3 separate regions of the Homo sapiens genome follow, and all the other regions are reported to be linked to region 2. Evidence: microRNA targets listed by miRTarBase, many of them from high-throughput screens and not tested one by one. Region 2 holds a microRNA gene; each other region holds the end of a gene's coding sequence.

Region 1 (4,196 bases), not on the chromosome of region 2:
AACTAGTTGGGATTAAAGGTGTGTGCCACCACACCTGGCTAATTTTTCTATTTTTAGTAGACACGGGGTTTCGCCATGTTGCCCAGGCTGGTCTCGAACTCCTGACCTCAGGTGATCGCCCTTCTCGGCCTCCCAAAGTGCTGGGATTACAAGCATGAGCCACCACGCCTGGCCTCAGGTGTGGCTTTCAACCTGGGGGCCTGACCCGGCATGAGAGCCCTGCAGGGGACTGTCCTGCTGTTTTCTCACCTGCACAAGGTGGCCAACAATACCTGCCCACAGAAAGGAGCAACTAGTGGCTTGCCTGGCATCCAGCTGGTGCTTAATAATGGCAGCTCTTATGACTATGGAAGGCAACAGCTCCTGTGTGCAAGGAACTTGTGTGTCTTGTAGAATCAGGGCCACACGGCCAAGCAAGAGAGGCCGGAGCAGCTGGAGAGGGACACCGTCACCATCGATCTGACCTTACTTAAAATGAGACAAAACCACAAGGTATTCATGATTTGAAATTTTTATTTTCTGAAATGAAACAATTGTACATTGTACAAACCATATCTACTGATGGAATAAATAAGTGAAAAATTATACTGCTGTACAACACACCAAAAAAAAAAAAAATTCTTGAAAGGGGAAAAAATTAGGTAACGGTGAAAAAAGGTCTTTATGCCTCTAACCAGGTTCTTGGCGATAATGAACATTCCAAACCATGACACCGTTTGCTAATGGGAGGTCACCACCCTAGAGGAATCGGTCCACAGCCTTCCGGGTTGTGGGTGTAAGTGCCAGCACTTTGTGGAATGTGTAGCCGCAGCTTCCCCGACTTCACGTTTTGGGGGGAATTAGGTTTGCCCTGGGAGCCCTTGAGGCCACGGGGCCTGATGTCCACGGAAGGCTTTTGCTCGGGATCCCCCGCCCCCTGGCTCGAAGCTGAAAGGTCTTAGATTCTGTGGTGGGGGGAGGGCGAGGGGTGCAGGGTGGGTGGGGGGCAGCGGCTCGAGGAGCGACTGCGCCAGGGAAGGAAGCACATCGGATTTTTGCAGTCTTGTCATTCTGCGTGGAAGGCCTTCTTGGCCAGCGTGGAGTGCAGGGCTGCTGGCGCTTTGCCTGGCGTGGCCGTGGTGGGGCCCAGCTGGTCCCAATCGCCGGCCCATTCCTACCTTCAGGCACTTCAGAGAAATACTAGTGACAGCCTTGGGACGGTGGACGTCGTCTGAGTCCTCACCTGCGCCAACTCCCCTTGCCTGTCCAGAGAGGCTGCGGTCAACGGCAGGGCCACCTACGCCTCTCTGTTTCTGTGGATGTGTGTGTTTCATTCTCCTTCAGCTGTCTTGGTTGTAGCCTCTCGTTTCCCAAAAACAGAGAAGGAAATAAATATCCAAATTCATCTCTCACCAAGATGGAGTTTCGCTGCAAAGAAAAATGTGACTCTAACTCTACGGAATCTGGAGGTAACGCCGCCTCGAGATGCGTGGAGAGGAACCGCATCAGGTAGGTTCTGCGCCAGGATGCAGGACACAGTTCTCAACAAAACTGACTGCCTAAGGGGCAAAATTGATAAGTACAAGGATTTTTTTTTTTAAGACAGAAACCTTTCGGCATTGCTAACTTCAACATTAAGATTTTCAAAGTTGTGGTTTTTTTTTTTTCCCTTATTTCAGGAGACATTTTGCATGAGGTATTTGAAATTCAGGAACATTTTGATTCTTCTCGAAGTGCAGGAAATAGACAGGATCCCTTAAAAAAAAAAATAAGAGCCTCACCCTCAGAAACTCTTAGAAAATGGAATCCAGCAGACACTTCCCATGATGGTCAGGAGAAAGAGCCACACGTCAAAGGTGGTACCTGAATATGCACCAATTAGCCCCCAAAAACAACAAAACCCATGACCCCACCCCACCCCCAGTAACACACAACTCAAAGGGAGTCAGAACTCCAGTGCAGTAAAGAAAGCTTAGGAAAAGGTTTAAGGTCTGAGGAGTTCATATATTAATTAAGAGCAAACCAGGCCTCAGAACCAAACGATTAGGCAGTTCGTCCAAGGGGGCGTCTCCGTTCAGTGAGAGGAAGCTGTTCCAGCGAAGGTGGGGGATGGGAGGGAGGGGAGATTGCGTCTCTCCTTTCTGGAGGGTGTGCAAATCTTTCCAATTCCTCGACGCCTTGTTTGTGGCCTTCGAGGCCCGGCCATCAAGGCCCACTCCCCGGTGGGGACAGACGGCATGTTCTGGGGATGAGACACGGTCCAGCTGTTGGCTCAGAGTCAGAACAGCCTGAGAATAGGAAAGCACGTGGATTCTGACCACTGCGATCCTGCCTCTCCGGGGCACAGGCTGGGGCGTCGGGGGAGGCAAAGGGCAGCAGGTGACCGTGGATTTGAAATCCAAGCGACGTCCTATGAGAGAAAGTTCAGCACCAGCTAATCCTGCCGCCGGCTCCCAGCCTCCCCGGCCCACTCAGTGCCTTAAGGAGACAGCCTTGCAGTCAGCCAGAGAAGCCATTTCGTATTCGGAGGTCTGGGAGAAAGCAGTGATGGGGGTGGTGGTGGTGGGGGCAATAGAGAGGAAGTGCCAGAAAATTCCAAGGGCTTTGCACGTCCATCTGGGCCATGGTGGGCTTGGAGACGCCCAGTCCTAAACGCCCCAAGGAGGGGAGAGCACAGCGAGTGCCCAGCCTGATCCAAGGGGCCGAGCCCTTGGGGACTGTGCCCCAACACCTGCGCGTCCTTGGGCCCTGGTGCCTGGTGCTTGGGGCGTGCCTAAGGTCCCCCTGCACCTGCAAACCAGGTGGGCTAAGGAGCTCCTTCGCTCCACCCTGCCTGCTCCGATGAAGTCCTGGGGCAGGGAGGAGAGCGGTGAGTAGGGTGGCAGCCGCCGCCCGAACCAAACCAAGAGGGCACTTTGCAGAGGGGGATGTAAGAACCACCAGGATACATGCCAGAGGTCACCTCAAGGGCACAAGGCACAAAAAAAGAAAGCGGAAGGAATCGGTTGAACAGTGGAAAGCCCCGCCAAAAAGCGTTCCTGATCGGTACCACCCTCCGATAGCTTATATCGTTACATAGAGAAGTGGGGGGAAAATACAGCAGCAACACAAATGGAATCCTGGCTTCCGAGACAGTGTGCAGACACTCCTGAGCTGTCAGCCCCGCCTGCCTCCCCAAGGACAGTCCCTTAAAGGTTTGAGTGTTTTGCTTCACAGCAGAGTTCTTCAGTGTCTGAGAAGTGACGCCGTTCTGGGTCTTCTTGGATTTGCACTTGGTAAACTTGAAACGTTAGTAGTTCTGTTCGCACCCAAGAGGAATCGCTGGGGCAAAGTTGCTCTAGAATTAATTGCTGATGTACCTTCCATGGAACATGGATCGGAGGCTTTAAAGCATCGTCTACATCTCTTCGGAGTTTTGTTGAGAGGCCTCCAGTTTCATCTTTTTAGAGGGTGGCACTCCTTCCAAATCCTTGGGGAGAGGAGAAAAGGGGAACACAGGTTAATGGGCCAGGAGAGCAAGTTAGGCCAGGCGTGAGGCCGAAGGTCAGCCAAGGAAGGAACCGAGCGGGGGCGGCTTTGTGGTTCAGACCAGCAGTTCCAGACCCGAGGCCCAAGCGTGGACTCCAGAGAGTTTGAGGACCTATGGAGACCCTCACACCCAAACTCTTCCTGGAGCTATGGAGCGCGGTGTCCCCTGGCCCCTGCCTGACCCTATCACATGCCAATGGCTGGTAACTCGGGAGCATTTCCTACACTGCTGCCTTGGACCCTAGGCTCTCCCCACTCATTCAGACTGGACCAGAAGTTGCTGTTATCAATCTTCCCATCTATGATTCATTGCTAGGGTGATTACTTGTGATTATTGTTTCAAGTTCACCTTTCCAAGTTCTTGTTTTTGTTGTTGAGATGGAGTCTCACTCTGTTGCCAGGCTGGAGTGCAGTGGGGCAATCTTGGCTCACTGCAACCTCCGCCTCCTGGGTTCAAGTGATTCTCCTGCCTCAGCCTCCCAAGTAGCTGTGATTACAGGCACGCGCCACCATGCCCGGCTAATTTTTGTATTTTTAGTAGAGACGGGGTTTCACCATGTGGGCCAGGCTGGTCTCAAACTCCTGACCTCAGGTTATCTGCCCACCTCGGCCTCCCAGAGTGCTGGGATTACAGGTGCACACCACCATGCCTGGCTAATTTTTTGTATTTTTGGTAGAGACAGGGTTTC
Region 2 (4,348 bases):
AGTTCCCATACCAGGACTAGCTGTGACACTGTGTCCAGTTCCCAGGCCCCCGAAACCCAGGAGGTGCCTCATCTTCTTTGGTCGAATGAGGTGTGTTTGTTCAGCCCCATTCAGTGACCCTGAGGACCTTGCACAGGCCTAGCGCTGGCTTCTCTGGGGGAGTGACAGAAACAGTCCAGAGCAACACAAAGGGAGCCTTCAGTCCCCATGCTCCTCCCACCACTGCCAACAGGGGAAACAAGGCACTTGGGGCTCCGTGGTGAGAAGACCTAGAGGAGATCAGCAGGTGCCATGCTTGAGACAATGAGCTTTACATTTCCAGAGCTAGCTCGTTCCGGTCAAAACAACATCCAGCCCAAAGGCAGTGGTGATCCACTGAGAAACAAATCCGGATAGGAGCAAAGCAGGCAGACAATATCGGAAATGCAAGGCCGTAAAAGGGCAATGAGGGGACTCTGGTGAGTGTCCGGAAATGGGCAGCCTCCTTGGGTGGGGTCAGGTCCCTCCATGTCCTGCTTCCCCCATAGTTTCACTCCAGACAGGCAAACAGGGACTGAGGCACTCACCCACTCCCCAGCCCCACCTTGCTTTCTTCCTCTGTGATGCTGCCTATCTATATCAACACACTTTTAGAAGATAAAGAAAAACAAATTCAGCTAGGAAGTTTCAAACCACCGGTTGCTTTTTCCTTCAATATCCCTGATTATTCAACTAAACAATTCTGTTGTTTTTAGGGTTGTTTAAACTACGTATACTTTGCTTTTATCCCTCTATTTTCCAGGGTTTGTATGTTTGTTTTAGTGTGTTCTCTCACTTGTGGATACCTGTGACATTCATATGGAAGGCCAGAATTTCTAAACATGAGCACTCAACACAACAGACCCACCTTTTGGCTCTGCCATCCTCAGAGCCCAAGAGAACCTTCCGGGGCTTCTGTGAGAATGTGAGGAAAGTAACAAACAGCAAGTGTCTAGGAGAAGGGTTTCACCTGGATTCTGCAAACCAAGTTTACTTGTGGAGCTTTCACTTTCCTGTTGGAAAGGGAGTCAGACAATAGACCTGACCTCCATAGAGCACTGCAAGAGGGAGCCCCTGTGAGTCAGATAAAGCACCGGATGCTGATATGTGTTCCGTGTGACGCTGGCACACAAATTCTTTGTGGCTGGAACCAAAATTTCCACATTCAGATTTTTCTCTGGAAATTAGTGGCCTTTTCACTCCTGTTAACACACACACACGCGCGCACACACACACACACACACACACACCCTTGTGGCTTCACAAGAACCTGCAAACCTCCGTCCCTTTGCAATCCTGGAAAATGGTGCCCCACCTCTCATGTCCCCTCACCTTACTGGTGTCATTATGAGTGTGAGGCCTCCAGATGGGAGGTACCCACCAAGTGGCATCAACCCACACAGAACCCTGACCCCTTATCCTTACCCCTCAAATTCATCATCTGATATGCCAATCTGGGGGTATGAATTCCTTGTTTCAGAAGAAGGTGATTTTATATCTAACCCATTACCAGACTAATTTGTTGTCACTGATATGCGCACTTTGCAACAAGAGTTGTTCTTAAAATTCATATTGTCTATTAGGATTTAGAATGTGCTAATGAAACTAGCATCTGAGGGAAAAAAACGGAGAGAAATTAAATCACTGACGAGAAGAGAGCTAGAAGGACCCTCCATAGGTTGTTAAATGAAGCCCTTTATGTGCAGGTATAATCAGCAAAACCAAATGAGCACATGCCATTTCCTGTCCCTGGACTGTCCCTCCCCTCAATTCATGACCAGCCCACCTCCTCTTCAAGTCTCAGAGCTTACTGCTGGGTTCTTCCACTCTGGAAACTCATCCAGTCTGGGTTAGGTGCCTTCCTATGTGTATGCACAGACTATATACCTTTTCTACATGAGCACATACCATATTCTATTGAGGTTTCCAAGTACACTCAAAGCAAAGACGGCCTATTTTCCCCAGTGTCCCCAGTACCTACCATGGTGTCTGGCCCACATGCTCAAGGAAGGCTTACTGAGTTAAAGGACGGAGCCATCACCTGGTGGTCTAACCACCCTCAACTCCTGACTTTTCTCTTGCCCTCTTCTTTACTTTTTTCTTTCTTTCTTTTTTCTTTTTCTTTTTCTTTTTTTTTTTTTTTGGAGTTGCACTCTGTCACCCAGGATGGAACGCAGTAGCGTGATCTCAGCTCACCGCAACCTCTGCCTCCTGGGTTCAAATCATTCTCCTGCCTTAGCAACCCCCGCCCCGAGTAGCTGGGATTACAGGCATGCACCACCATACCTGGCTAATTTTTGTATTTTTAGTAGAGATGGGGTTTCACCATGTTGGCCAGGCTGGTCTTGAACTTCCAACCTCAGGTGATCCGCCCACCTCGGCCTCCTTCTTTATTAACTGAGCTGCTCAGTCTTGCCTGCACATAAGCATCACCTGGGAAGCTTTCAAAAAATATCTTTGCCTGGCCTGATGCCCAGAAAATTCTGATTCAATTGATCTGCTGTGGGACCTGGGCATAGGTGTTCAAAAAGGATTCCACTGTGAAGACTGAGAAGGCTTCCATCTTTCAGGTCTTTCCCTTAGGTATTTCCTACCTTCAAAATCCTCTTTCTCTTTTTAAACTTATCTTCATGGTCAGTGACTCCCAGAGACATTACTTAGCCCTCTGTGTAAACTGCCCATAAAATACAAAGGGATACAGATTGTGGGAGTCCATCCCCCACTGGCTTCACTTGGCTTCCTTTCACATTTCTCTTGAACTTGAGAAGGCAGCAACCACAAGATCTGAGATTCATCAGGCTCCCTCATAGGTAGGGTACCACTGAGAAAGCTGTCTTACCCAGCAGAATGAGCAAAACACCAGCCAGCTGGGCCCGCCTGTACTTAGCCACACCGGGCTCCTGGCCCATCCGGATGCAGGGAAGAACAGTCAGCAGCAGTAAAATGGCCGGCAGACCCAGGACCGAGGCAGCAATCATCAGGGCGCGGCAGGCCTGCACGTAGCCTGGGAACAAGAGAGCAGATGGGAAAGGTTAGACCACAGGGTTCTCTTGCTTCCTGAGCCCTGCCTTAGGGGAATTCAGCACCATCTCCCTTCCTCCTTCTTGGTGGATTCCAGGACTTAGAAGGTGCTAATGTTGTCCAAGGTCACTAAGCACTTTTTAACTTTTAAAACAACTCAGCAAGAAAAAAGGGGGCTGGAGAAACTAAATGGGGACCCCTGGTTTAGGCCACTTGGCCAAGCTTCCAGGATGGAGGGGCCAAGAGTCCATTTACATTATTACATCCCCCTGAGAAAGTTCAGATGAAAACTGAAATCTCCCAAGAATCATTCTGTGAGGGCCTCTATTGGTTCCAGTCTGCTATTGATAGCTCTACCTGTGTGACCTTGGGCAAGTTACTTAACCATGATGTCTTATTTTCCACATCTATAAAGTAACAACAGGCCAGGCATGGTGGCTCACACCTCTAATCCCAGCACTTTGGGAGGCCAAGGCAGGTGGATCTTCTGAGGTCAGGAGTTCAAGATCAGCCTGGCCAACAGGGCGAAACCCCATCTCTACTAAAAATACAAAAATTAGCCTGGTGTGGTGGTGTGAGCCTGTAGTCCCAGCTACTTGGGGAGGCTGAGGCAGCAGAATCGCTTGAACCTGAGAGGGGGAGGTTGCAGTGAGCTGAGATCGAGCCACTGCACTCCAGCCCAGGTGACAGAGCGAGACTCTTTCTCAAAATAAATAAATAAATAAACAAACAAAGTATTGATAATAATATAATAGTACCTACATCTCTGTAATAGAATTCTACTGAAGATTACATTAGTTAATTTATTTAGTGCTTAAAACAGTGCCTATACCAAATCCTCAAAAAAGGTTAGTTGTTATCATTGGTGTTCTTTGTCTGTCTCAGTGCAGCGCTTTCATCTTCAGGTGTCCTAGGTGATTTTCTCCTAACCATGTGCTTTCATTCACATTGGCTGTGGCCCTAACCCAGACTAAACTAAGACTCAGGCTTCCTCTCTTTGCTGTCTCCCCAGAGGCTGCTGTCCTCATGGATCCTGCCCCTAAATTGTTGGACCCCATCTCCTGCCTCACCCACAGTGCCCTGGGCATCCTTCCCCAACTGTCCATCATTGCTTAAAAGGCATCTCTCCAGCCCTCAGGGTTCCTGGAGGGCAGACACCTGCCTTGGTATTCACGGAGTTAACACAGTGCCCACAACAGATCATGGAAACAATTGCGAATCAAGGAATAAGAGAACTGAAAAATAGAAGAGTAGAGCAAAACTACATGAACTTTATCCTGTCAAGTAAAATGCCAAGTAAAAACTGTAT
Region 3 (4,196 bases), not on the chromosome of region 2:
ATTATAAAACCAGATTGTTGGCAGAGGACACAACAAAATGTAAGTTAGAAAATTCATAAACATACATTTATTCAGGAAATACAATTACTAGAATCCTTGATATTTCAATGATCATTCCACATTATAAAATATTCACAAACATGTAGTTTTTTAAGTCTACACCAGGTCATGCTGACATTCTTTTTGGATAAGCCATAACCATTTCTTCTATTAAATGCTATAATATCCATTTTAATTGTAAACAAAGTACTTGAGCCAGACTACTTAAGTACTTGAGCAAAATAACTTAAAAAAATCTTAAGAGGAGGAGGACAATGATATTTTTTAAAAACATATTTGAGGCTGGGCATGGTGGCTCACGCCAGTAATTCCAGCACTTTGGGAGGCCGAGGCGGGCGAATCACGAGGTCAGGAGATCGAGATCATCCTGGCTAACACGGTGAAACCCCGTCTCTACTAAAAATACAAAAAAATTAGCCGGGAGAGGTGGCACACGCCTGTAGTCCTAGCTACTCGGGAGGCTGAGGCAGGAGAATTGCTTGAACTGCCTTGAGGTGGCGGAGGCTGAAGTGAGCCGAGATCACACCACTGCACGCCAGCCTGGGCAACAGAGCAAGACTCTGTCTCAAAAAAAAACAAAAACAAAAAACAAAAAAAAAATTTGAATCGTCAAATCCTAAAGAACTAGGCTGCTATTATCTAGTATTATACTAACAAATGAAGTGCCCACATTAAGACAGTACATAATTATTAACGACAATATTTCTCATCTGCAATTTTTAAACATGCTTTCTCAAATAACAAACACGTATTTTTGTAAGTTTTAAAGGCAAAGGGGGCAGAATGATGACAGACATAAAAAGCTCACATTTAAATTACTGGTAGATTTTATTAAAAAAAAGAAAAAAGAAAAAAAAAGATAAGACTGTAATTACTTCCCAAATAAGGAATGCCAAGTACCTTTTATTCCTAAAAGAAATTACTTGGCCAGGTGCAGTGGCTCACGCCTATAATCCTAATGCTTTGGGAGGCTGAGGTGGAAGCCAAGGAGTTTCAGGCTGCAGTGAGCTATGATCACACCACTGTGTTCCAGCCTGGGAGACAAAGCAAGATCCTGTCTCTTTTAAAACAAAAAACAAACAAACCAAAAAAAAAACAAAAAAAAAACCTAAGAAATGTAATTAATCATTAAGTAGCTGCAAATTGAACTGTTCTATTTTGATACTTCCTAAGAGTGTCCAGTGTAATCAGATCATTTTATAATGGGTTATTGACCCTAGGTGTCCTTTAGAACCACCTGGAAAGCTTTACAAAAAAAAAAAAAAGGGTGATTTTGATTTAGTTGTTATGGAATAGGACCCAGGTATCAATTTTTTAAAGCTCTGCCAGGCTAATATGTAGCTAAGATTGAGAATCACTAAGTCAACACATTTTGATATATCAAGAAAATAAATGGAAATGGGGGTGATAATTTATATTTGTAATTTACAAATCAAACATCTATCATACACTTACTATGTACCTAGTTTTATTCACGAATCATCCATTTCTAAGATAAAAATTCCCATCATTTCCTCACTGCACTAAACCACCACTGTACATCTTTGCCAATGAATGACTGTATTTTTCTATGGTCAAGATTTAAAATTCTGGGATACATTATGAAAACTGCATTAATGAAAACAACCTACTGCTATTCATGCTCAACAGTAGCAAGCTAAACTACTGTACTTGGCTCCTTTGAGCTACCCTTATTTTAAGAATTATAAATAGGTGTCAACCCACACAAAGAACAGATTGTGGATTACCGTAGGGAAAAAAATAGCTTACTCAACTTACTAAAAGTTTCAACACCAAAAAAGATTTAACTTGGCTGAAAGTTCTGAAACAGCTGAGACACAGAACCAGGAAGCTATAATTTATAATGAAATGTTGATACATACTTAAAAGCTACTGCAGCTGTAGCTATACTAAAATAAGATTTCTTCAGGGTTTACTTACCCTGAAATGCAAGAATACAAGCATAACAATAATATTACTGTTTTTATATGCACCAATACCTCTCTTTAATATATAAAGCTCTACAACAAATACCTCTAATAATTTTACAATTAAATTAAGTCCATACTTCTATACTACTTTGGTCTCAACATTTTTAAAACATCAATTAATTTTGAAAATTTACAATTTAACAACATGATCCTATCAATAACAAGCACATTTTGTAGTGGATTAAAGACACATTCAACCATGCAATCCAGTGTTCAATACCTTAATGATAAATAACAATGCTGATTGACTTTTATTTTGAAAAATCATTGAAAACTGGAATAATCATCTGAGACTCACAGTGATCACAAACATGCAGAAAAAAGCATACAATTCTATTCTTCCTGAAGGAATGTTACAAAATGCCCACTTTTTTATATAGGGTCAATATGCCAAATTACTTATATTTTTCAATCCATCATCTTCTAACATTTGTCACTTAAATTTTTCTTAAAGTACAAATGTTCCTGTAAGTTGTAACAGAAAATGAACCCCAACTCTTTCAGTCTTTAAGACCTCAGTCACAGTCCCACACTAATAGCTGCCTTTTAGTAAAATAGTGACATCCAGTGGACAAATGAAATATTTCTCAAATTCCCATATTTGAATCATAAACAAAAGTTGCCTCTTTAAATCCAACAATTTTAGTATGAGTTCCTACTTATTTTGATGGAATCTACAGATTCTCATGAATACTTCACATCATAATTTCTATGTATCTTAAATATATCCTCTTTTCTTCCTATTTAAAATCAATTATTTAAATTGAGCTAGTAAGAATGTCTACTCTTGAAGCTAGTGAGGTTAAAGGTATTACTTTTCCTTCTTTGCTTCAGCTACTTCCCACCACCAAATAACTGGTTTGTCTCTAGGAATGGAAGGACTAAAATATAGGGGAAATACTGTGCATTTAAATAAAAATGAATAGTATTTAAAAGAAATCACAAAAGATGAAATCTGAACCTGTTTTGCATTTATAATTTGATGTACGGTTGAACATAAATAGGGATGTAATAAGTAATGCTATCAATTACATCCTCTTGCCTCAATGCTCAAATATTAAGAATATGTATTTTAGCAATGATTGTTTCAGTGTTTAAAAACTTACTTTCATAAATCAGTATAAATGAATATCCATTATATATTATGTTTAAGTAAAAGTGAAAAAACTTGCACTGTACTGAGTCATGATTTACCACTGGTTATATATATTATGTGTGTGTTCAAAGTACAAAATGCAGCAATGATGTTAACATTGACAGTGTAATGAACTGCCGTAGATGAGACTGTTATGCTTAATTTCTTGGAAAACTGTAAAGAAATTTCACAGGTTAAAAAAAATAGAGTAAGCAAAAAAAAAGAATTGGAGAACTTTACTTTTAAATCAGCAGCTAAATGAAGAAAACTTTTCCTTTCTAAAAAAAGATTAAGAATGTAAAAGTACATTTTAATATTAAAAAAGCATTTTAAAAAATCTATAACAACTTTATGACAAAATCTGCATTTGAAAAAGGCCTGTAAAAACAGTAGGACAGAATTGCCCTCATCACCTTTTACTTTTTCTTGTCAGAAAAAAGTGTATGCATCTCTGGAACCATAAATGATGTTAAAATAGGCATTTATAAAATGACAAGGAGAATTTCATGATAAATTTGTTTGTTTTCTTACAATCATTGGCATTGCAGCCATTAGTAAGTCACAAGGAAAACTTCTCTAGCTAAAACGCAAAATGAAATATCAAGTTTTGAAATGTATTAGGTCTGTTGCCTGCGTTTTGCTGATCTCATTTTTTCAAAGCGCGACTCCATTTCTTCTAAGACTTTGGGTGTGTATCGTACCACTAATTTAACCTTTCCTTGTGCGGCTTTCAGCAGTTCTACAGCTTTTTCATGATGTTCTCCTTCAACACTCTAGGGGAAAAAAAAACAACCAACCATACACTAATATCTAAGTTTTGAAAGTAACTCAAAATGCAAAAATGTTTACAATATATATAATGAAGAAAAGTTTTAATGTTATATTATTCCAACATTACAAAACTAAGAAATAATCCTGCCTTACCATTTTAATCTATATGAAATCCTCTCTTACATCATATTCTGTTTATAGTCTAAAAGCTGGCTTTTAAGTTCCAAATAATTAGCATA

What was found. The annotated mature microRNA hsa-miR-6828-5p reads AGGAAGCAAGAGAACCCUGUGG and lies in region 2 at 3,056-3,077, opposite strand. An mRNA with a match to its seed (bases 2 to 7 or 8) in the 3' UTR can be bound and repressed. Matches are read on the target gene's strand: a 7mer-m8 pairs with bases 2 to 8, a 7mer-A1 pairs with bases 2 to 7 and ends in A, and an 8mer does both.
Region 1: the mRNA of BCL7A is a reported target of hsa-miR-6828-5p. Seed matches in the 3' UTR shown: 7mer-m8 at 1,018-1,024.
Region 3: miRTarBase lists LIN7C as a target of hsa-miR-6828-5p. Seed matches in the 3' UTR shown: 7mer-A1 at 1,038-1,044.

What each region holds. Positions count from the first base shown.
Region 1 is chr12:122,058,344-122,062,539 of GRCh38, reverse strand. It overlaps BCL7A (BAF chromatin remodeling complex subunit BCL7A), which reads right to left. Exons shown (of 6, transcript NM_001024808.3): 6 at 496-3,448. The coding sequence ends at 3,377. Among named protein-coding and RNA genes, the nearest start is that of LINC02985, 2.8 kb to the left of the region's middle.
Region 2 is chr3:170,421,837-170,426,184 of GRCh38, reverse strand. It overlaps MIR6828 (microRNA 6828), which reads right to left and starts at 3,082; the gene lies at 3,023-3,082. CLDN11 (claudin 11) reads right to left here. Exons shown (of 3, transcript NM_005602.6): 2 at 2,858-3,022. RefSeq lists enhancers at 1-328, 329-830.
Region 3 is chr11:27,494,846-27,499,041 of GRCh38, forward strand. It overlaps LIN7C (lin-7 cell polarity scaffold C), which reads right to left. Exons shown (of 5, transcript NM_018362.4): 5 at 1-3,959. The coding sequence ends at 3,804. Among named protein-coding and RNA genes, the nearest start is that of LIN7C, 9.8 kb to the right of the region's middle.